Homo sapiens: one gene and its partners. The protein of the gene in region 5 purifies or fractionates together with the protein of the main gene of each other region. This does not show direct contact. Each region holds a gene or a part of one and is shown on either strand. Other genes may lie near its edges. The genes, in order: HERC5, PTCD3, DHX30, SAMHD1, MAP3K14, RPL10L and PPP6R1.

Region 1 (3,500 bases), on a different chromosome or scaffold from region 5:
TTTCCAGAACCAAAGGAAAAGACCTTTCCCAAATCAGAAACATAGGCAAGTGTGTGCCACCTATTAAATAAAAGCACATATGGTCAATTCTTAATTATCCACAATGATGAGAGTGTTTAGCAATACAGTAAATTGCCAAAACTATGTTACCCAGTGAGAGTGAAACTAAACATCTCTTAGAGGATGAAAATCATCTGGAAACCAAGAAATCAACATGTACCTGAAAAGACTTTGGAACCCAAAGGCCACTCAAGACCATGATGTCATACTTTGGCAAATGGTGTTCCCTTTGTTGAAACAAGCACCTCCCCTTGCCCTCTGCTCATTTTTCAACATCAGTTTGAGTCACCACCTCTTGGAAACCATCTCTGAGTCCCTTCACTTTCCATCCTGGAAGACTCAGTTGAGTTCCCACTTAATTTCTCAAAGACCTTTACCACACTGATTTTCCTATTGATTTGCTGGTTTGTATATTCCACTATACTGTTGTGTAGCAAGGAATCTGCCTTGCCCAGAGAGGTCTGGCTGGTGCCCTGTTCCTAGGAGGTAACCTCTAAACCCACAGAATTCCCCAAGTGATAGAGGAGAGTCTTTATTATTCATGGCAGGATCCTGGGAGAGCTCTCCTGGCCTGTGATGTAAATCAGACCTACAGGAGGGCAGTGCTGGAGATTAAGTTTAACTATCCGGGCAATGATTTAACCAATCATGCCTCAGCAATAAAACCCCTCAATTTAGGTGGGGTGTGGTGGCTCATGCCTGTAATCCCAGCACTTTGGGAGGCCAAGGCAGTAGGATACTTTGAACCCAGAAGTTTAAGACCAGCCTGGCCAATATAAGGAGACCCTATCTCTACAACAAATTTAAAAATTAGCTGGGCATGGTGGACCTGTGGTCCCAGCTACTCAGGAGGCTGAGGCAGGAGGATTGCTTGAGCCTGGGAGGTCAAGGCTGCAGTAAGCCATGATAGCACCACTGCAGTCCAGCCTGGGTGACAGAGTGAGACCTTGTCTCAAAAAAAAAAAAAAACCACCAAACCAAAAACAACTCTTGACTTGGTCTTGACTTGGGTGAACTCCTCTGACTAGATGGCAGATTATGTACATCCTGTACCCTGTCTCCAAAATAAAAAAACCAGAAAAAACAAAAACAACTCTCAACTTGGGTGAATTTCTCTGATTGGCTGGCAAATTCTGTATGTCCTGTCACATTATCAGGCCAGAAGAGATAACACCATCCACCTGCTCCAAGGGGAGGTGACAGCCACAAGCTCAGCATTTGCAGCCCTCCTATACCCTGCCCTTATGTGTCTTCCTTTGACTGGTACTAGTTTGTATCCTTTTCTTGTAATAAATGTGACTATGAGCATAATAGCTTTTAGTAAGTTCGTGAGTCTTTCCAGTGAATTGTCCTGTTAGTAGGGGTATTGCCCTGATGTGCATTAAGACAGATCTCCAACTTGCCTCCTTCTCTTGTAATACATGCTACTCAAAAGGACTGTATGTAATGAAGAATCCAAAGAGGTGATAAGACTGCTTTGGTTAAGAGATACCGAATGAGGTATAAATATTGAAGAGAACGCTTCTTTGGTGAAGAGACTCATATTCCGATAATTTGGTCTACCTTAATAATATTACCCATTTATGTAATTCTACTCCAAGATCATAAGAAAATATGCCTACAGACTGAAAGTATTCATGCTAGTTTTTTATAAGAATGGTTTCAGTAAACTAACAAATGAACCCAGCATTCAAATACAGTCTGAATTTTGCTCTACGTTTAGTGAGGGAAAAACTGCCCAAAAGAATAAGTGTATATGGGGGAAAATATTTTTTAATCCTACCAACTTCCAACATCCCTCTGGCAAGACGTGGACTGATATATCTGATAATCAAAAAAATTAAATAGTGGCGTGGTGGCTCACCCCTGTAATCCCAACACTCTGAGGGGTCAAGGCGAGCAGATCACCTGAGGTCAGGAGTTCAAGACCAGCCTGGCCAACACGGTGAAACCCCGACTCTACTAAAAATACAAAAATTAGCCGGTTGTGGCCAGGTGCAGTGGCTCATGCCTGTAATCCCAGCACTTTGGGAGGCCGAGGCAGGTGGATCACAAGGTCAGGACATCGAGACCATCCTGGCTAACACAGTGAAACCCCGTCTTTACTAAAAATACAAAAAATTAGCCAGGCGTGGTGGCGGGCGCCTGTAGTCCCAGCTACTCCGGAGGCTGAGGCAGAAGAATGGTGTGAACCCAGGAGGCGGAGCTTGCAGTGAGCCGAGATTGCGCCACCGCACTCCAGCCTTTGCAGCAGAGCGAGACTCCGTCTCAAAAAAAAATAATAAATAAATAAAATTTAAAAATTAGCCAGTTGTGGCAGTGCACGCCTGTAATCCTAGCTATTCCAGAGGCTGAGGTGGGAGAATAACCTGAGCCTGGGAGGCGGAGGTTGCAGTGAGCTGAGATTGCGTCACTGCACTCCAGCCTGGGCAACAAAGCAATACTCTGCCTCAAAAAAAAAAACCAAAAACCAAAAAACAAACAAACAAACAAACAAGAAAACCAAAAAACCTTTAAATAAACTAAGGAGTCTGAGCAAGACATTTTACCTTTCTTTTCTAAAAAGGAGCTGTGAAAATTAAACTTCTTAGGAATATTTCACTCAAACCATCACTGACTATGTCTTATACTTTACTGTGATCAGGGCAGGCTACAATGAAAGAACTCTGGTAATTAAAAAGTATGTTGGCCACAAGGCATTGTCAGAGAGGGTGATTACATTTAATGAATAATCCTTTGTGATTTACATTTTATTTTTCCCAAATAAACAATTAATGACTTGTTTTTTTAAGACAAAAGTGCACCTGAATAGTTACAAAGGTATTTCACTAAGGAGACAGCAGAAAGTGAATTGTATCTGCTCATTTAAAAAAAAAAAAAAAAAAAAAAATCAAAGAAAACAACCATGTATAGTAAAAGGGGTATTACATTTATCTAAATAATATAAATTAAGCATTTTCACTGATTTGAAAATGTTTGATACATCTCAAAGAAACTGAAAGAAATTTTATTAAATTACTATCTAGTTTGCTGCACTCATTTTATCAATTCTTATTGATACTTTACAACTTACCTTCCACATGCTATCTGAGTCACTCTATACCCAACAAGCTCAGCCACCAAACAGGGTCTTAGCTCATTCTGTGTTGAATTATGACCAAGTTGCCCATGTTTTCCAGCACCGAAAGTAAACAGCAGCCCATCCTAAGGAAAGGGAATGTCATATCAGATGCTAGAAAAATAAAATAAAAAAGTAGTATTCACTGATGCAAAGTGAATCACTAATAAATAGCACTGTCAAAGTAAAGCTCCTAAATATCAGAAGGACAGTCCTACATACAGGAAGTGATGACCTTTCTTCTCTGGGAAACACTAACTTCCCATACAAACTGTTCTTCTAAAAATACAGCCAAAAAGAGACAAGGGTACACCCACCTGTG
Region 2 (3,500 bases), on a different chromosome or scaffold from region 5:
AATAAAGGGATTTGATAATTTTATTTTAAATTTTTTTTTTTTTTTTTTTTTTTGAGACAGAGTCTCACTAACTCACCCAGGCTGGAATGCAGTGGCAGGACCTTGGCTCACTGCAACTTCTGCCTCCCAGGTTCAAGAGATTCTCTTGCCTCAGCCTCCTGAATAGGTAGGACTACAGGTGCCACCATGCCTCGTAATTTTTGTTTTTGTTGTTTTGGTAGAGACAGGGTTTCACCATGTTCACCATGCTGGTATCGAACTCCTGACCTCAAGCAATCAGCCTCCCTCGGTCTCCCAAAGTGATGGGATTAGTGATGGGATTACAGATGTGAGCCACTGCTCCTGGCCAATAATTTTATTCTTAAAAAAAAAAAAAAAAGGCCGGGCACTGTGGCTCACATCTGTAATCCCAGCACTTTGGGAGGCCAAGGCGGGTGGATCAGGAGGTCAGGAGATGGAGACCATCCTGGTGAGCACAGCGAAACCCCGTCTCTACTAAAAATACAAAAAAATAGCCAGGCGTGGCGGCGGGCGCCTGTAGTCCCAGCTACTCGGGAGGCTGAGACAGGAGAATGGCATGAACCTGGGAGGCAGAGCTTGCAGTGAGCCGGGACTGTGCCACTGCACTTCAGCCTGGGCGACACAGCAAGACTCCGTCTCAAAAAATAAATTAAAAAAAAAAAAAAAAAAAAGTTTGGCGCAGTGGCTCACACCTGTAATCCCAGCACTTTGGGAGGCCAAGGCAAGTGGATCACCTGAGGTCAGGAGTTCGAGACCAGCCTGACCAACATGGAGAAACCCCGTCTCTACTTAAAATACAAAATTAGTTGGGCGTGGTGGCACATGCCTGTAATCCCAGCTACTCAGGAGGCTGAGGCAGAAGAATTGCTTGAACCCAGGAGGTGGAGGTTGCGGTGAGCCGAGATCGCGCCATTGCACTGCAGCCTAAGGCAACAAGAGCAAAACTCTGTCTCAAACAAAACAAAACAAACAAACAAACAAAAAACAGATGGGGGTCTTGCTACATTGCCCAAGCTGGTTTTGAACTCCTGATGTCAAGTGGTCTTCCTACTTTGGCCTCCAAAAGTGTTGGGATCACATTCATGAGCCACCTGGCTCAGCTGGATTAGACAATTTTTTTTTTTTTGAGACAGAGTCTCGCTCTTTCGCCCAGGCTGGAGTGCAGTGGCGCGATCTCTCCTCACTGCAAGCTCTGCCTCCTGGGTTCACGCCATTCTCCTGCCTCAGCCTCCCAAGTAGCTGGGATTACAGGTGCCTGCCACCACGCCTGGCTAATTTTTTATATTTTCAGTAGAGACGGGGTTTCACTGTGTTAGCCAGGATGGTCTCGATCTCCTGACCTTGTGATCCACCTGCCTCGGCCTCCCAAAGTGCTGGGATTACAGGCGTGAGCCACCGCGCCCGGCCTAGACAATTTTAAAGAAACTTTCTAGACGCACAACAGTTTAATTCTGAGTAATGACGAGGTATGAGTATTAAATGTGTTATTAGCCGAGTTAAAAAGTGTGTTATTAGCCAAGTTTTAGGTTAAAAAAAAACACAAAATCCTACTTACCCTGTTTACTGTGGATGCAAGTGCCTGAAGAACGGCTACTTTATCCCTAAAAATAAGAACCACAAGTTAATCCTCATCAGGGCTCTTCATAGCCACAAACCGAACAAGTGATTCTACTCTCAGTGTACTGGCCAATAACATAGTGCAGATCTCATCTGAAGCTGGTTATGTCACAAGGTCACTAGAATAAATTAGAAATTAAGAAAACTGCTGGTTCTTTCCCCTAGTTGGTACATGTTCCTCTCTTTGCCTGTCCTCTCTGGCCTGGTGCATAATGCCATAACCCAGGGCTAGTGATTTCCATCCCGCCCTCATAAAACTATCTGGCCTACTTCCTCTACCCACTTTCCTATGGATTCTTACTGCAGCTTTCGGGACTACTGTTGCCTTTACTATCCTAATTGGTAGCTCTTGATTCAGTTATAGGAGAATAAACCACAGGCTTCACTCTGGACCTATTGCATCAAAGCCTCCCAAGATCCATGGAGGACTGTCACACACACTCTTACTGAATTCCCAGATAATTCTGATGCAACCTCCTGGTTTAGAACCTCTCAACCATATATAACGTTATGGTAAGAATTGCAGGCCAGCTGTCCACTGCACCTCTGAGTAGAGACCTTTACTGAACTATTAGAAAAGGCTTCACTGGAATAAATGACAGACAAGATAATTTGATCTCAAATATATTTGTGCTCCTATGTTAGATTTAATGTGTTTCCTTTCCAAAAGGGAATTATACCAAGAGTATTTTTCTAAATAAAGTTTAACATAACATTCTTAAGACTATAAGTCATCTGAGAAAAACAAAAGTACAGGAAATTTTATATTTCATCAAAACTAATTCCCTGATGTACATAATATCCACTAAATTTTCTATCCACGTTTAGAAGTCACATTTATGTAATTTCAGCAAGTGTGATAACGACACATTCTCTCATCTGTCAGCATTCCTTCAGCAGATCTTTTATTGCCCTATTTAAGTCTTATCAAGTTAGCAAACTTTCCTAACATATTGAACAAATGGCAGTGAAAAAATGATGACATTCAGATTACTCACTAATTCTCTTTCTTTAAAGGGTTACTTTAAAAGGTATCATACATTATCTTAAAAAAATAAACTAGAACATTACACGTTAACCTAAAGTGTCTGGTGTCATCTTGTGACCCCTCTCCACGATGAATTTGGTATTTGTATTTCCAGAACTTTTAAAGGTATTTTCACACATAAACATCTCCCTAAAAAACGTATACACACTGTCATTCTGCATGTGTCTACATAAGTTTGGCTGCACTATCCATGTTATTAAATATAGAGCTAATTAATTCCTTTCAATGTAAAAAGTTATTGTATGATAACCTTTTAAAATTATCCATTCACTTTTCAATGGGCATTCAGGCTGTTTCAACCTGTTACTATTCCCAAGTAATAAAGAACAGTCTTGTCCATGTATATATGCAAATGTTCCTCCAAAGTGGCTAACCAGTAAGGTACGCACATTTCCAATTCTGATTCTGCCAAATTTCCCTCCAAAGAGCTGTTCCAATTTACTGTCCCATAAACAAACGTATTTCTTCAAATCCTCTCTCTGCCAATACGGTAAGTTTTAATTTGCACTTCTTTTATGATCCCAGTTACCTATGCATTGACATCACTGGGCTCCCTGGCCTCCCTAAAATAATCACACAGTTCAGATTAATAAAGTTCTTAAAAAAGTCTTTTTAAATGAACCCAAGTCTTTTTTTTTTTTTGAGATGGAGTCTTGCTCTGTCGCCCAGGCTGGAGTGCAGTGGCGCGACCTCGGCTCACTGCAAGCTCCGTCTCCCGGGTTCACGCCATTCTCCTGCCTCAGCCTCCCGAGTAGCTGGGACTACAGGCGACCCCCCACCACATCCGGCTAATTTTTTTGTATTTTTAGTAGAG
Region 3 (3,500 bases), on a different chromosome or scaffold from region 5:
CCCCCAACAGGGGCCAACCCCCTGCCTCTGGGCGTGCTGGCACCATCAGCTATAAGGACCTAAAGGACAGGAATCTGGTCCTCATACCACAGGAGGTGCCAACACAAGCTCCTTGCTGCAGGAACAGGCTTCTGCCCTCTCCCCAGACTTCATGGGTTTTACCCACCAGCCTCACTGACAAATGGCCCTCCAGCCACTGCAAAGCTTGCTCCTTCCCAGACAGGCCCCTACCATGCCAAGGTGCTTCTGCTCACAGTGCGTGTGCATCAGGCCAAAGCTCAGATGCCTCCAGTTCTACTCAGTCCTTGTTCTGCCCTCGAGTCACAGGTAGCATATCTGTGCCCTCTTTATCTCACCAATTGCCTGTCCCCTCTTCCTCGTCTTTCTCCAGGTTCTTGTTACCTCTCACCATCAGCTGTAACTAAAACATGGTTCCCAGAGCCAACTGTACCCATGAAATGGTGCACCTGACCATTCAGAGTAAAGCAGGCCCATTTCTATCTTGGTCTGCAAACTAAACCTCCACCAACATGGGTTGAGATTACTAACTCCTCAGGCAGTCAGAGACAATCCCAACTCCCTCCCACTACTGTGCCATCAGCTAACTCCACCAGCCCCTTTCAAGAGAACGGCCATGGCCAGGAGCGGTGGCTCACGCCTGCAATCCCAACACTTTAGGAAGTGAAGGTAGAAAGACTGATTGAGCCCAAGATTTTAAGACCAGTCTTCGCAACACAGTGAGACCCTTGTCTCTACAAAAAATGTTTAAAAATAAGCTGGGAGTGGTGGTGCATACCTATGGTCCCAGCTATGCAGGAGGCTGAGGTGAAAGGATCGCTTAAGCCTAGGAGATCGAGGCTGCAGTGAGCCATGATCGTGCCACTATACTCCAGCCTGGGCCACAGAGACCCTGTCTCAAAAAAAAGAGAACTGCCAGCTGTCTGCCACACTGTCTCTACCTTGATCCTGACTGCTTCCTCAATCATCACTGCAGTCACAAGTCACATTATTCATTCTGCCCACAAAACCCGGGTTATCAGGATCATACTGGACACCAGGTCTGCCTCTCAAAACAGGCCCGGCTCCTCCCGGCTTTATACTATTCAGAACAATGAGCAAGTTTCCTCCCGGCCTCACCAGGTTCAGGCCAACAGTGTGGAAAATGCTGGGTCACGGGCAAAGTATCTCCACAGGGCCTCTGGAAAAGCCATGGCAACAGCCACAGGGCCTACAAGCGAGGCCTGCATACCAGCTGTCTTTGTGCCAGGCAAAAGGCCTGCTGTGGTGGTTTCATTTCCTAGAAAATGGGACCCATTTGCCACTGGCAGAGGGGAGCTTCAAGACATTCTCATGCACCACACCCAGGACCTTCCTGGACTCACCTTCAGTTTCTTGCAGGCCAAGGCTGCCGCCTTATTCTCAGCCTCTGCTTTGCGGCGCCCTTTGGCAACAAAGGTCATGGGGCAGGGCCAGAGCAGGGTGAGTGTAGACAGCTTGGTCTTGGTGCCCACAGTATGGAACTGCATGAGGTTCTACATGGAAGGCAAGAGAGATGGTTACAGAAATGTAGGGAATGGGAAGAGACTTGGGGCATTCTCAGAATGCCAAGGAGCCCAGAGACAGAATGAGCCACCATCTCAGCAGGTGCCAGGCGTGAGCCATGCTAGAGGTGCTGCTGCATAGCCAGGAGCAGGCCCATGGGCTCAGGCACCCTAGTCCCAGGCTCGCTTCTCCTGCTATACCTCGACTTCCACTGCAGAAGACAGTGCTTGGGCAATGCCATCACCTGCCCTCCTAGCCCACTGTCATCTCGGCAACATCGTGGCAGCTGTGGGTTGAAGCTGTCAGCATGAGCTAAAAACCAGGCACATCCTGCGGGAGCAAAAAGACCCTGCACCTGGACAGAAGCTCTGCTTAACTGTTGTACTTAGGCGAGTTAAGGAAACGCCACACTTTGAGACGAATTAAGAGTCCTTTATTAAGCCGGCGGCCAAAGAGACAGCTAATGCTCAAAATTCTTTCGGCCACGAGGAAGGGGCTCGATTAACTTTTATACTTAGGTTTAGGAAGGGGAGGGGGACTTAAATGTAATAATTCTACAGAAGTAAAAACATGCAAGAATCAAAAGAATCAAAATGGTTACAGAGTGATAAACAACTTAAAAGACAAATGGTTACAAGAAGAGCAACAGTACCAGGTGCAAGATTCTAAATCTTTCATTATAATTAGATATAGGGTCTACGCCAGACACGAACTCAAGGTTTTATGTTGTTATCTCTTGGAGAAAATTCCTGGGAACTTCATATATTGTTGGTGTTCGTACCTTATCAGTTAATTAGGCTCCTTTGAAATGCTGAGGATCTGTTTACCCAGGCCAACTCCTTACGAAAGGGGGTTGGGTGAGGAGCCCTTAGTGTCTTGTAAATTAAGGGGTCAATTGGGGTTTGTACGGCTTTCTTAGCTAGAGAGAGTCTTATTTTACATGAGAAGCAAGGCTAGGTGATTAAAGAGACAAGCAGGACAAAATTCAAAGCAACGAGTTAAAGTAAAAACAAGGTTAGGCATTTCATGACCAAAGCCCCTTCGCCTGGCAGCAAGAGAGAAATTCATACCTCACCAAGACCCACACCTCTAACCCTTCCCCACTGACAATCCACCGCCCAGAAGAGGTATGGGTCTTCTGCTCTTGCGGCCCCCAAGCCCACTCCCTGTGCTGCTGAGGCTTGACCTCCATTCCATCACACCTGCTGCTTTTCCTCCCAAGCAGGAGTTCCTCCACCTGGCCTAGGTTTGGGCTGGAGGAACACACCCCCTCAGCCCTCTCTAAACCTGCCTTTAGGGAACACCAGACATGACCAAGTAAACGGCCCCCACACAAACTTCTAGGAGACCCAACTCACCTTAGCTGTGGAGGATGACGTTGCAATCTGAATCACCTTGGCCAGAAGGTTCTTGGGAAGTGGAAACTGGGTCAGAGCCCTAATGGCACTGTCGTCATCTGTCATCTCAAAGGAACTCCCCCTGGGAGGACCAAAAGTTTAACTGAAAGAATTCTCTCTTCCTGGACCAATTTCCCTGAGGCTCTGCGATGTAGGGGTGAGGACGCTGCGCTGCAGCAGGGAGCCAGAAGGGCAGAAGGCATGAAATGGATGGGAAACCGGGCGTCTCTGCTCCTCCCACAGCCACACTGCATGGGGACTGCTCCCTCCATTCCCTCACACAGATAAGATAGCAGAGAGCAGGGGCTCCATGCTGCTGTTCTGCAAAAGCCCAGCCACATAGAAGACCACAGCTGGCTGTCCCCCAAGAATGGGCAGACACACACTGAGTGATGGGGCACACAGGCTGAAATGTGAGGCAGGGGCGCTCCCATCTCAGAGAAAGCTAGCAGAGAACATTCGCCCATCCCCGTGTCAAGGCACAGCCAGCCTCTGCTGCATCCCCATCCTCCATCTGTACCTTGAGTCCCTGAGTGGAGCGTGGGAATCCTGCTGGGTCAT
Region 4 (3,500 bases), on a different chromosome or scaffold from region 5:
TAATTTTCTGTATCACTATCTATAAAATTTACTAAGCGTTAATCATATGCTTCAACACTTTATGTACATCATCTCATTATTGTTATCCATTTTACAGGTACAGAAACTGAAGGGTTAAATGACTTCTCCCAAATTATACAACTAAAAAGTGCCTGTTTTGCATAGTGTCTTTAAATCTAATACCAGGGCATATTCCAATCTTTAGGAAAACCTAGAAATATGCTCAAGATAGGGGTGTAGCCTTGATTTTCTTACTAACATTTTTTTCCCTATTGGTTCTTATGTATTTCCCAGTGTGTATAATTCAATTATTCTGAACTTGAGAGTAAAAAGTTGGTCACTACAAACTTGATGAAGATTTGTCTGCAACATTATTTAAAATAGGAATAAGGCCACACACGGTGGCTTATGCCTGTAATCTCAGCACTTTGGGAGGCCAAGGTGGGCAGACCTTGGCCCACCTTAGGTCAGAACTCCAGACCACCTTAGGTCAGGAGTTCGAGACCAGCCTGGCCAACATGGTGAAACCCTGTCTCTACTAAAAATACAAAACTTAGCTGGGCATGGTGGTGCATGCCTGTAATCCCAGCTACTCAGGAAGCTGAGGCAGGAGAATGGCTTGAACCCAGGGGGTTCAGTGAGCCGGGATCGCACCATTGCACTCCAGTCTGGGTGACAGAGTGAGACTCTGTCTCAATAAATAAATAAATAAATAAAATTAAAAATAAACTAAAATAGGAATAAACAGTAATAGCAAACATAGGATTTGTACAGCGAAAACAAACAGCAGGTGGCCAGTCGCGGTGGCTCACACCTGTAATCTCAGCACTTTGGGAGGCCGAGGCAAGCGGATCACTTGAGGCCAAGAGTTCAAGACCAGTCTGGCCAACATGGTGAAACCCCATCTCTACTAAAAGTACAAAAATCAGTGGGGCAGCCGGGCGCGGTAATTCCAGCACTCTGGGAGGCTGAGGCGGGCAGATCACGAGGTCAGGAGATTGACACCATCCTGGCTAACATGGTGAAACCCTGTGTCTACCAAAAAATACAAAAAAGTAGCCAGGCGTGGTGGCAGGCGCCTGTAGTCCCAGCTACTCGGGAGGCTGAGGCAGGAGAATGGCATGAACCCGGGAGGCGGAGCTTGCAGTGAGCCAAGATCACGCCACTGCACTCCAGCCTGGGAGACAGAGCGAGACTCTGTCTCAAAAAAAAAAAAAACCGAAAAAAAATTAGTGGGGCATGGTGGTGGGCACCTGTAATCCTAGCTACTCAGGAGGCTGAGGCAGGAGAATAACTTGAAGCCGGGAGGCAGAGGTTGCAGTGAGCCGAGATACTCCAGCCTGGGTGAACAAGAGACTATCTCAAAAAACAAATGAACAAACAAAACCAGCAGGCAAGGGATTCTGCTGTTTTAAAGCACTTCATAGATTTAAAATGAGGACAGTTTATATCAGAGATTTTGGGCTTTGTCCCTGAAAGATGGATAAAGTGTGTTTGGTTATAACGTGAATTTATTTCTTCATTCTTACCTTACTCCAAGATTTTCAAAACGAGACTCATCAAGACAAGGCAGTAATGCGCCTGTGATTTCATTTTCTATGGAAGAAAAAAGACAAATTCAATGTATACAACATATGCTTTTCATTTTCTTTCAATTTGGATACACCAACATTTACCCAGATCCACATAAGTGAGTACCCACTGCAGGCAATGGATTGTGCCAAGTACCACTTTTTTGATCTGCTACTTGTAAAGACTTAATTTTAATTAAATAACTAAACCAAGAAGCATTTTTTGATAAATCACGTGAAAATTTCAAAATTATTTGTGTAAATTAGTTCCAAGAAAAACCAGTTGCAAAAAGGAAAGTGAAACCCGACTACCTGTTGGGGTTTTGCCAGGTCAGCAGCTTTGAGTTGGGGAGGGAAGGAAACCTAAGTCTATTGTTCTTAGAATTAACAAGGTTTGAGTTGGGGAGGGAAGGAAACCTAAGTCTATTGTTCTTAGAATTAACAAGTTAAAACCGTGAATTCAAGAGTGCTTAAAGTGTTGATTTTTCTCAAACCTCCTGGGAAAGCACTCAATACTCTGATTTGGAAGAGGTGTGTGTGTGTGTGTGTGTGTGTGTGTGTGTGTGTGTGTCCTGGGAAAGCACTCAATACTCTGATTTGGAAGAGGTGTGTGTGATTTGGAAGAGGTGTGTGTGTGTGTGTGTGTGTGTGTGTGTGTGTGTCCTGGGAAAGCACTCAATACTCTGATTTGGAAGAGGTGTGTGTGTGTGTGAGTGTGTGTGTGTGTGTGTGTGTCCTGGGAAAGCACTCAATACTCTGATTTGGAAGAGGGGTGTGTGTGTGTGTGTGTGTGTGTGTGTGTGTGTGTGTGTTGTTGGGTTTTTTCCTTTCTCTTTCTATACAATTAATTCTAATCTTTCCTGACCTCAAATTCCAGAACTCTGGACTATTTTCTTTTATTTTCTTTGAGACAGGGTTTTGCTTGTTGCCCAGGTTGGAGTGCAGTGGTGCGATCACATCTCACTGCAGCCTTGACCTCCTGGGCTCAAGCGATCCTCCTGCCTCAGCCTCCTGAGTAGCTGGGACCACAGGCATGTGCCACTGCACCTAGCTAATTTTTATTTTTATTTTTTGTAAAGTTGAGGTCTCCTGATGTTGCCCAGGCTGGTCTTGAATTCTTGGGCTCAAGTGATCTTCCCACACTGGCCTCCCAAAGTGCTGGGATTATAGGTATGAGCCACTGGGCCAGGCCTCCAGTGGTTTTTGATGAGAATACTTGTTAAGGTATAGATCACATGAGTTCTAGAGTCCAAAGACCTAACCTTAAAAAATCTAGCTCTTTTTTGTAGTGGTGTGATCTCTGAAAAGTTACTTTACATCTTTGGACCTCGCATACATCATCGGTAAAATGTGTTGAGTGTAGTAACTTATTTCAGACTTCTTGTGAGGCTGTATTCCATAATGAGAAAAGGGACACTGTACCTTGTGCTTGGCTTATCAAATTAAAAAAAAAATGGACTTAGATAAAGAGAGACTTTTTTTTTCTTTTCCGAGATGGAGTCTCACTCGGTCGCCCAGGCTGGAGTGCAGTGGCGGGATCTTGGCTCACTGCAACCTCCGCCTCCCAGGTTCAAGTGATTCTCCTGCCTCAGCTTCCCAAGTAGCTGGGACTACAGGCACATACCACCATGCCCGGCTAATTTTTGTATTTTTAGTAGAGACGGTGTTTCACCATGTTGGCCAGGCTGGGCTTGAATTCCTGACCTCAGGTGATCTACCTGCTTCGGCCTTCCAAAGTGCTGGGATTACAGGCGTGAGCCACCGTGCCCGGCCAAGAGAAACTTTATTAGAAAGAAAGACTATTGCTGGTCGGGCGTGGTGGCTCACACCTGTAATCCCAGCACTTTGGGAGGCCAAGGCGTGTGAATCATCAGGTCAAGAGATTAAGACCATCCTGGCCAACATGGTGAAACCCCATCTCTACTAAAA
Region 5 (3,500 bases):
CCCTTGAAATTATGTGGCATCAAGAATAATTTTATGGCCAGTCTTTGTATTTTCACACCATACTCATGTGAAGAAGGGCAGGGACAAAGATCAGAAAAGTGAAGCCTCATAAGGAGAAACAGACAGGATTGCTCAGAATCTAAACCCCCTTTTCTTGATATCTAGGTCACTGCTTTTTCTACTACCTTGCTCATGAAACGATAAGGATTTTCTTCCCCCAAACATGTCAATTTTGAACATAACGAAACCAGGGTAGCAGCTTTATTTATTTATTGTACCAATCAATTATTAATTGATATTGATTTTTAATTAATAAAAGGCCAAAAGATGAATAGCCTGCTGCCTGGACAGGTGTGCTTGTGCCCATTTTCCAGATGTAGAAACAAAGGCAGAGAGCCCGTGATTTGTCCAGAGCAACAGAACAAGTCCTTGGTGTCTCCGTGTCACATGTGGTGGCTGAGGCTGTCAGGTCAGAGAGACCTGGGTCAGGTCGAGGTCTGCCACGGCCTGCCTGTGTGCCCGCAAGCAAATCACTTCACTTCTCTAATCATCAGGTGCCTCATCTGTGAATGGGATCAGAAATACTTCATGGGGCTGTTTTGAGTAGAAAATGAGAGGAGATATGTAAAGTGCTGAGCCCAGTGCCCAGCACAGAACATAGAGGCTGTAACTGTTGTTGTTGTTGTTGTTGTTCTTGTTGGTGGTGTTTGGTGGTGGTAGTAATAGTAGTAGTAGTAGTAGTAGTAATAGTAGCAGTAGTAGTTGCCAATTACTGCATTGTGACTAAACCTGTTTTCTGTAAGATGATGTCAAGAAGGGTCAGACTGCCTGACAGGCCAGAGTCATTTTCTCAGTAGGACCTTTAGGGGGACAGTCCTTCAGTCTAAAAGCTTCAGCTCTCGGGTTCTCCCTGTCTTACACTATATACTGCCCTCACCATACTCCAAATGAGGCTACAAAGGTCCAGGCTCTGCCCAGTTGACAATCCTAACTCTGAGCTGGAGACACAGCTAGGCCTGTCTAGGGGCTTCCTGTGTCCCACACGTGATCAAGTAGGTTCCTGCATTAATCCTGGAGGTGAGGAAAGGGAAAATACTGTATGGCATGTAGATCAGCAAGGACTTGTTCTTTGGGGGAACAGGAGGGAACATTTGGTTCTGTGGGATGAGGTTCCCACTACCACATGGCATCCCCAGCTCACCACCCTTTCCCCCTCGTAAAGATGTCTTTGTCAGCTTCTCTCTGAGACTCTGTCTGGGGGCCCACGATCTGCAGTCAAGGACTTGCAGATTCCCCTTTAAATCTCACAAGAAGCCTGGAATGGTGACGTGTGTTTCTTTAGTCCCAGCTACTTGAGAGGCTGAGGCGGGAGGATCACTTGAGCCCAGGAGGTCAAGTAGCTATGGGCAACATAGCGAGACCCCATCTCTTGAAAGAAAAACGTTTGTTTTAATCTCACAAGGGAAAAAAAAAGTTTCATGTTATATTTTAAAGTCTTTTTTCACCTTAATACAAAACAAAAATATAGGCTCTCACCAGGCTACTGTTCCCTTTAAATAACATTTTGTTTTCTCTTGGGGAAGCTGACTTGATGGCCGAAGAGTCATTTCTAAAGTGAAGCTAGTTTTTAGAAAAAATAGATCACCGGATGTCAAGCCTCATGTGGAGCTCGGTTCAGATGAAAATGAAACCAGCAGGCCTGGCGTGGCAGCTCTGCACTTGACTTCAGGCTGGAGGTGAGAGGCAGAGTGTGCCTGGACCTTGCTCCATAACTGGTTGGCCCCACAGAGTGCATTTGATAGGTGCCTTAGTCATTTTCCAAGCAGCTTTGCTTAGGTGAGCAGAGCACTTTCTCTGGAAGGTGAGTCACCCATGCAGGGGTGTAGGTGACAGGCGATTTATTCCCCAGCACAGTTGCAGAGAAAGTCCTGAGCAGACCTTCGTGAGGAGCCCTCTGCCACAAATCAGCCTCATCCCAGCCCCAGGGCTATGGAGGCAGGGGGCAGGAGGTAAACAGGAGGCTTCTGGGGCCAGTGGGCTGACAGCGGAGGGGGGATCGTGGACGGGGCACAGAGCCCAGATCAGCAGTGTCACTGACTCCTAAGTCCAGCCACCCTGAGGGTGGAAAATGGCCTGCTTCCAGTGACAGTCAGCAAAGAAGCAGGAGGGGAGCTTTGGCCCTGGGGAGCTGGGAAATCCCTTGGCAGAGAGCAGAGAGACAAGCCCTATTTTGGTGTGAAAAACCTTTTAGGAACGCTTTTCCACCTGCCTCCTTTTCAGCCACCTGAGTTGGAGTCTCTGCAGAGCTCCAGCGATTGTAAAGGCTAGATTAAACCCTGGATTTCAGAAAGCTTTAGGAATCCCAAGCCTGCCACCATCTCAGTTGTCTACACTTCTAGGACCAGGATTTGTACCAAGAAAGAAGCAGCAGGGGGTACTCCTGAGCCATCCCTCCCTCCCAGGTTCTGGTTACTACAGCTTCTCCTGACGCTCTTTCTGCTAAAGCCACTATCAGGTGTCCATTAACGCAGAGATTTTCTTCAGACACTGTTCTGGACTAGTGCAGTTGGTGTTGAACTTGACCGATTATGGTCAGGGACATCTATAAGCAATGTCCAGGACCAACTACAAGGAGGGCTTGACTTTAATGAAGCTGCAGCTCTTGCAAATAATCTCGTTCCCTGTCTCTGGCAGACTACCAACCCAGCCCCTGTACCCATACCCCATCAGTCTGGACCAACCAGTAGTCACCTCCTGCTGGCATGGCTAAATAACCTTAACCTCACTGTCCAGAAAGAGCTGTTAGGATTATAGCCTGGACATGATCATTCACATTTTTTGCAGTGAGAAAATGCAGAAGAGAAAATGGTGGCCCAAGAAAGCCAAGTGGGTTGCCCAAGGCCACACAGCTAGTTAATGGCAGAGCCTGAACTATAAAACCCAGACTCTTCACTGTACTCTGCTGCCAGGGAACGAAGGAACTAATCCTGAAGCAGGATTTTTTTTTTTAAACTAGCTTCTCCTTTTATTCCCCTACCACAACCCTATCACTCTCAGCCTTTCTGCAAGCTCTGCCAGGCCTGGGAAGGGTGGAGCCACAGCAGCTGCTGCCCTGGGTCTAAGAAAAAGTAAACAGAAAGCTATTTGTTGGACGCTGTCTTATACCATGAGGTTCATGTAATCAAAAGGAGGTCAAGGTTGATAAGAAAATACAATTACCAGGAAGTCTCAAAGGTTGCCCACACCTTTAGGGCACTTTCCTACCTAGCCAAGCAGTATCTCACCTAGAGTGGGTATTTAGTAACTTTCAATGATTGATTACAGGGGTCCAAACCCACAGTGCACGAAGCTCTTCTGCATCTTTCTTCTGTGCAGGAGGTGCATGCATACTCTGGGTGTTATCCTAGCTGATCTGCCTGGCTCCTCTCAGTGAGAGGCTCTTCCTTGTGGGTGAAGCATGATGTCATGATGTCATATCTGGATGGTGGCCCCTGTAAGTG
Region 6 (2,477 bases), on a different chromosome or scaffold from region 5:
GTGAGACAATGTAAAGTTCGTCTGGAAAAGCCTTTCAGAGTGATACTCAATTGTCCTAAGGCTGATAATCAGACGTGTAAGGTAATTCTAAAAACAATGTACAGAAATTTATAGAAAAACATAAGGCAACCAAGTTTAGAAATAAATTACTTCCAAAGAGGCTGTGGGTGAAATATCACTAATGCCTACTATTATTTTCATCGCTACTGTTTAGTTTATATTCTATAAACAAATTTTTTCACTCAAATCTATTTTTTATTCAAGGAATGATAGCTGCATAACTTATGACTTTACTACAAACAAAACTTTCAACATATTGCTCTATACTCTCCTAAATTTAAAGTGTTTGCTTAAAACAGCTTTCTCTATAAATTGTATAGTTTTACTGAAGCAAGGAAGGTAACATTTGCCATTAAAACTGAATAAATAGAAAAAAATTCTCTAGTAGTCTATATTCTAAAACATTGGATATTTAAAAAATATTAAAACTTAATAAGGAGTTATTTTTTGCCAGTAAACAGAATTTATTAGTAAGCATAAGTCAGACCAGCATGGCCCAAGGAGACAGTACTGCCAAAACCTTCATGAGTGCAGAACCCGCCACTTGTCCAAGGGGCCATGACTGGGAACGTACTTGACTCCACAACCATCAGGGATGAGGCACTTCTTGGCCACCATGTCTTCAAATTCGTCAGCATTAAACTTCGTGAAGCCCCACTTCTTGGAGATATGAATCTTCTGGCGTCCAGGGAACTTGAACTTGGCCCTGCGCAAGGCTTCAATCACATGCTCCTCGTTCTGAAGCTTGGTGCGGATGGACATGATGACTTGACCAATGTGGACCCGGGCTACAGTACCCTGGGGTTTTCCAAAGGCACCTCGCATACCTGTCTGGAGCCTGTCAGCCCCAGCACAGGACAACATCTTGTTGATGCGGATGACATGGAAGGGATGGAGCCGCACTCGCATGTGAAAGCCATCTCTGCCACAACTTTTCACCATGTATTTGTTGGCACAAATACGGGCGGCCTCCAGGGCTTCAGAAGACAGCTGCTCATATTCATCAGACACCATGTGGCCACCGAGTGGGAACTCATCCACTTTTGCCTTCTTTCTACCCAGGTCAAAGATGCGGATCTTGGCATCAGGAACCCCTCGGCAGAAACGAGATTTTGGGTACGGCTTGTTCTTACAATACCGGTAACAGCGAGCTGGACGGCGCCCCATGGCGACACAGTAACGTCGGCGGTGCCTCGAAGTCAAAATGCGCTCTCTTAACTACGCCTGCGCGCATTTATATACGTTGCCCCTCGTCCCTCGCGGGAACCATAGAGTCCTGAGGCCGGAACCATAGAGTCCTGAGGAGGATGTGACGACTCTCTTTCAGGACGTCCCAACCAGAGACGCAGGGACGTCTGGCGCCTCAGCGCCTGCGCCAAGTGGCGCGCTTAAGGTGAGCAGAGTCAGCTGTGGGTAGACTCCCCCTGGCGGCCAGGGAAGGAATTGGGCCCCGCCCCAACTGCACAGCTGCTGCTTCCTTTCTGCTAGCCATCTTGGGCTAGGAACTCTTGCTTTCAGCTTTGCTTTAAGTATAAAAGAGGTTATTTCCAGGCAGGAGAATCTCTTGAGCTCAGGAGTTCGAGGCCAGCCTGGGCAATATAGTGAAATGCTGTCTCTACAAAAAAAAAAATATATATATATCAAATAGCTGGGCATGGTGGCACATGCTTGTAGTCCCAGCTACTCAGGAGGCTGAGGTGGGAGGATCGCCTGGGCCCTGCAGGCAGAAACTGCAGTGAGCTGAGATAGCACCACTGCACTCCAGCTTGAGTGACAGAGGGAGACCCTGTCTAAAGAAAAAGAAAAAAAGAAATCCTAGAATTTGAGAGGAAAAATCCTTCCAGTTATTCAACATGCTGTTTCCAGTTTGGTCAGTTCATTTTCCAGAGCTTGTATCTCACTGTCAGCATTTGTAGATCAATTGCTGTTTCTTGGGTTATGTGGCCACCTTCCCTGGATAAAGTGGTTTCTTGGCATGAGTGCTTTGATGAGACTCAGGAAGAGATGAGAGGAAGAGAAGAGAGAGGGATAAAGAGAAGATATCTGTTGTATCTGTAGCTTGGCAATTGTTTTATAAACATGAAACTTTGTTTTTTCTTTATTTGGCCTAAAGAAATGATTTTATTATCAAAATGATATATACAAAATTGAAACACCAACTAGATTTTTTTTAACTTAAGGCTATTTGCATTTTCAAATGTTAAAGCTGCTGAAACTATATAAAAGAGTAACAGTTTGTGTTTTAGTAATCTTTTGCCCCTGAGAATAAATTTAAACTTTTTTTCTTCTCAGAGTTTGTAAAAATATTATGACAGGGATCAGAGTGTAGGAAAGGAGGAAGAAGAGAGAGGAAAAGAAATTAATAGTTTACAAACCCTACTTGCATTTTTCTAGTTTTCTTTTTTGTTTTAATGTTG
Region 7 (2,869 bases), on a different chromosome or scaffold from region 5:
TGTGTGGCCAATGGATATCCTTCCTCAGTGCCCAGACCCAGGAGCAGGACCTTCCCAGTACCCACATCCCCTCTGTTAGCCAGTATCCTCCCTTCTGAGGGTAAAGTTGTCCTGGCTTCTAACCCTGTAGATGAGTTTTGTCTCTGTTTTCACTTGATATAGCATACAGCATCTCCTTTTATGTCTGACCTCTGTTGCTCAACACTCTGCTTGTGAGCTCCTTCCCTGTTGTGTGTTTGGGTGCCCCTGGCTCTCGTGCAGTGGGGCAGTGCCATGCATGATGAGCTGCAGCTGAATTGCTTGTTCTGCAGTTGACAGGCCTTTGGGCAGGTTCCTGTTGCTCGCTGCTGTGAGTGCAGCCGCTGTGAGTGCGGCCGCTGTGAATACCCTTGCACGTGTTGTTGGTGCACAAGTGTGTCACTGCCAAATCCAGCATCTTGACTTAGCCCTCTCTTTTCTTCTAAGAGTTTTATAGCATTATTTCTATGGTTTTCCATTCATTTTGAGCTAAATTTTGTATATGATGTGAGGTGGTCCACCTTCATCCCTTTACATATAGATAACCAGTTTTCCCTGCACCAGTTGTTGAAGACACTGTCCTTTCTCCACTGAATCATCTTGGCACCTGTGTAAAAAGGAAATATTTGACCATATGTATGAGTTTGTTTCTTCCCTCTCTGTTCTGTTCTATCAGTCTGTGTGTTGTTTTTATCCAGTACCACACTGGCCTGGTTGCTGTTGCTTTATAGTAAGTTTTGAAAATGGGAGGTTTGTTGGGCACGGTGGCTCACACCTGTAATCCCAGCACTTTGGGAGGCCAAGGTGGATGGATCACCTGAGGTCAGGAGTTTGAGACCAGCCTGGCCAACATGGTGAAACCCCATCTCTACTAAAAATACAAAAATTAGCCGGCTGTGGTGGGTGCCTGTAATCCCAGCTACTCAGGAGGCTGAGGCAGGAATATCGCTTGAACCTGGCAGGCAGAGGTTGCAGTGAGCTGAGATCGCACCATTCATTGCACTCCAGTCTGGGTGACAAGAACGAAACTCCATCTCACAGAAAAAAGAAAATGGGAGGTTTTAGTTTTCCAACCTTGTTCTTCTTTTTAAAGATTGTTTTGCCCTATTTGGGATTTCTTGAGATTCCATATGAATTTTAGGATCAGCTTGTCAATTTCAACCAAGAAGCCACCTTGCGTCTTCTAATACGTGAACATGGATGTCTTTTTATATAGGTCTTAAAATTTCTTTCAACAATGTTTCGTAGGTTTTAGAGTATGAGGCTTTGTATTTCTTTTAAGTTTATTCCTGTTTTCTTCTTTCTGTTACTATTGTAAATGGAATTTTCTTGAAATTGTTTTCAGATTGTTACAAGTATATGAAAATACAATAGGTTTTTGTATGTTGATCTTTCATCCTGCAACCTTGCTGAACTAATGTATGAGTTCTGATAGTTTTAGTGGACTCCTTAGGATTTTCTATGTACAGAATCATGTCATGTGAATAGAGTTCATTTTCCTTCCTTTCAAATCTGGATGATTTTAATTTCCTTTTCTTGCCTGGTTGCCCTGGCTAGCCTCCGGGACAATGTTGAACAGAAGTGGCAAGAACAGGCATCCTTGTTTTGTTCCTGATCTTAGGGGGAAGCATTCAGCGTTTTGCCATGTAAGCATGCTGTTAGTTGTGGGGTTTTGTAGATGCCTTATGTTAGGTTGAGGGGCTTCCTTTATACTCCTTAGTCGTTGAGTATTTTAGTTTACTTTTAACTATATACAGATATATTACTTTCCAGTTAAAGTAGTCAGTTACTCTGTTAAGACAAAAATATTGGGTCAGCATTTTAGACATAGTATATAGTCCCATACTGCATCTTTGGGTCAGCGATGGACCACATATGACAGTGGTCCCGTGAGATTATAATCCTCTATTTTTGCTGTATTTTTCCTATGTTTAGATACACAAACATTTACCATTGTTAGAATTGCCTGTAGTATTCAGTACTGTAACATGCTGTATAGGTCGGTAGTCTAGGAACAATAGGCTATACCACAGAGCCTAGGTGTACAGGAGGCGCCACCATCCAGGTGTGTGTAAGTGCACTCTAGAATGTTCACACAATAGCAAAATCGCCTAATGATGGCGTTTTTCAGAGTGCACCCTCGTTGTTAAAGCTTAGTTTTAGTGTTACTTTGCTTACCCCTTCCCCGGTTGATCAGCACGTAGGTTGCTTGGATTTTCTTCATGCTCACAGGTGTGTGTTAGTCAACATTCAGCCAGTGTTTTTGGAGCAGCTATGGGTGCCTGGTGGTTTCTCAGGGCTGAGGATACAGCAGTGGCAAAACTCAGCCATCTCTGCCTTCTTGGAGTTTCTAGTTGGAGGGAGAGAGTAGTGTGAAGCCTCTGTCCAGAGGGTGGGCCTGCTGGTGGGAAGGCCTGTCACTGTGGTGACCGTGTGAGGTGACGGCTGGGAGGTGGCTTGAGAGCTGGTGAGTGGGTCTGTCTGCTCTGGTTGCCATGGCTGAGGCTCAGCCCACTTCCCCAGGGCCTGCCCTCCACGGATGACTGGCGACGGACGGTCTCCTTACGGCCGCATTCTGTCCCTGCCCGCCTGTGTTCTTGCCGTTGGCTCAGAACTCCCTCTCCCAGCCTCTCCTGGTGTCGTCACACCCCAGGCTCCCTGGACCCTTCTGTGACCTGCCTGTCATCCCAGCCCGCTCTCCTTGGGCTGACCCTGGGCTGCAGGGAACAGGATGGGTGTCGGCCGGTCTGTCCCACACAGCTAGCTGACGAGGTGGTTTCTGGGGCAGGAGTGGAGGCAGCACAGACAGTGAGGACGAAGAAGAGGAGGACGAGGAGGAGGAGGAAGACGA

The links.
Region 1: the proteins of MAP3K14 (region 5) and HERC5 purify together in Homo sapiens (affinity purification with mass spectrometry; one large-scale study listed by BioGRID and IntAct). This does not show direct contact.
Region 2: the proteins of MAP3K14 (region 5) and PTCD3 purify together in Homo sapiens (affinity purification with mass spectrometry; one large-scale study listed by BioGRID and IntAct). This does not show direct contact.
Region 3: the proteins of MAP3K14 (region 5) and DHX30 purify together in Homo sapiens (affinity purification with mass spectrometry; 2 studies listed by BioGRID and IntAct, with this or other methods). This does not show direct contact.
Region 4: the proteins of MAP3K14 (region 5) and SAMHD1 purify together in Homo sapiens (affinity purification with mass spectrometry; one large-scale study listed by BioGRID and IntAct). This does not show direct contact.
Region 6: the proteins of MAP3K14 (region 5) and RPL10L purify together in Homo sapiens (affinity purification with mass spectrometry; 2 studies listed by BioGRID and IntAct, with this or other methods). This does not show direct contact.
Region 7: the proteins of MAP3K14 (region 5) and PPP6R1 purify together in Homo sapiens (affinity purification with mass spectrometry; one large-scale study listed by BioGRID and IntAct). This does not show direct contact.

Annotation. Positions count from the first base shown.
Region 1 is NC_000004.12:88,463,619-88,467,118, reverse strand, and holds part of HERC5 (E3 ISG15--protein ligase HERC5), read right to left. Parts: coding exon 3,496-3,500; intron 3,265-3,495; coding exon 3,134-3,264; intron 61-3,133; coding exon 1-60.
Region 2 is NC_000002.12:86,109,235-86,112,734, reverse strand, and holds part of PTCD3 (small ribosomal subunit protein mS39 precursor), read right to left. Parts: intron 1,623-3,500; coding exon 1,577-1,622; intron 1-1,576. UniProt on the Homo sapiens protein: Mitochondrial RNA-binding protein that has a role in mitochondrial translation.
Region 3 is NC_000003.12:47,841,138-47,844,637, reverse strand, and holds part of DHX30 (ATP-dependent RNA helicase DHX30), read right to left. Parts: coding exon 3,460-3,500; intron 3,022-3,459; coding exon 2,901-3,021; intron 1,533-2,900; coding exon 1,383-1,532; intron 1-1,382.
Region 4 is NC_000020.11:36,945,209-36,948,708, forward strand, and holds part of SAMHD1 (deoxynucleoside triphosphate triphosphohydrolase SAMHD1), read right to left. Parts: intron 1,597-3,500; coding exon 1,530-1,596; intron 1-1,529.
Region 5 is NC_000017.11:45,310,521-45,314,020, reverse strand, and holds part of MAP3K14 (mitogen-activated protein kinase kinase kinase 14), read left to right. Parts: intron 1-1,583; exon of another isoform or gene 1,584-1,736; intron 1,737-3,500.
Region 6 is NC_000014.9:46,650,510-46,652,986, forward strand, and holds RPL10L (ribosomal protein uL16-like), read right to left. Parts: upstream 1,273-2,477; 5' UTR 1,228-1,272; coding exon 583-1,227; 3' UTR 501-582; downstream 1-500. UniProt on the Homo sapiens protein: Testis-specific component of the ribosome, which is required for the transition from prophase to metaphase in male meiosis I. Compensates for the inactivated X-linked RPL10 paralog during spermatogenesis.
Region 7 is NC_000019.10:55,232,149-55,235,017, reverse strand, and holds part of PPP6R1 (serine/threonine-protein phosphatase 6 regulatory subunit 1), read left to right. Parts: intron 1-2,806; coding exon 2,807-2,869. UniProt on the Homo sapiens protein: Regulatory subunit of protein phosphatase 6 (PP6). May function as a scaffolding PP6 subunit. Involved in the PP6-mediated dephosphorylation of NFKBIE opposing its degradation in response to TNF-alpha.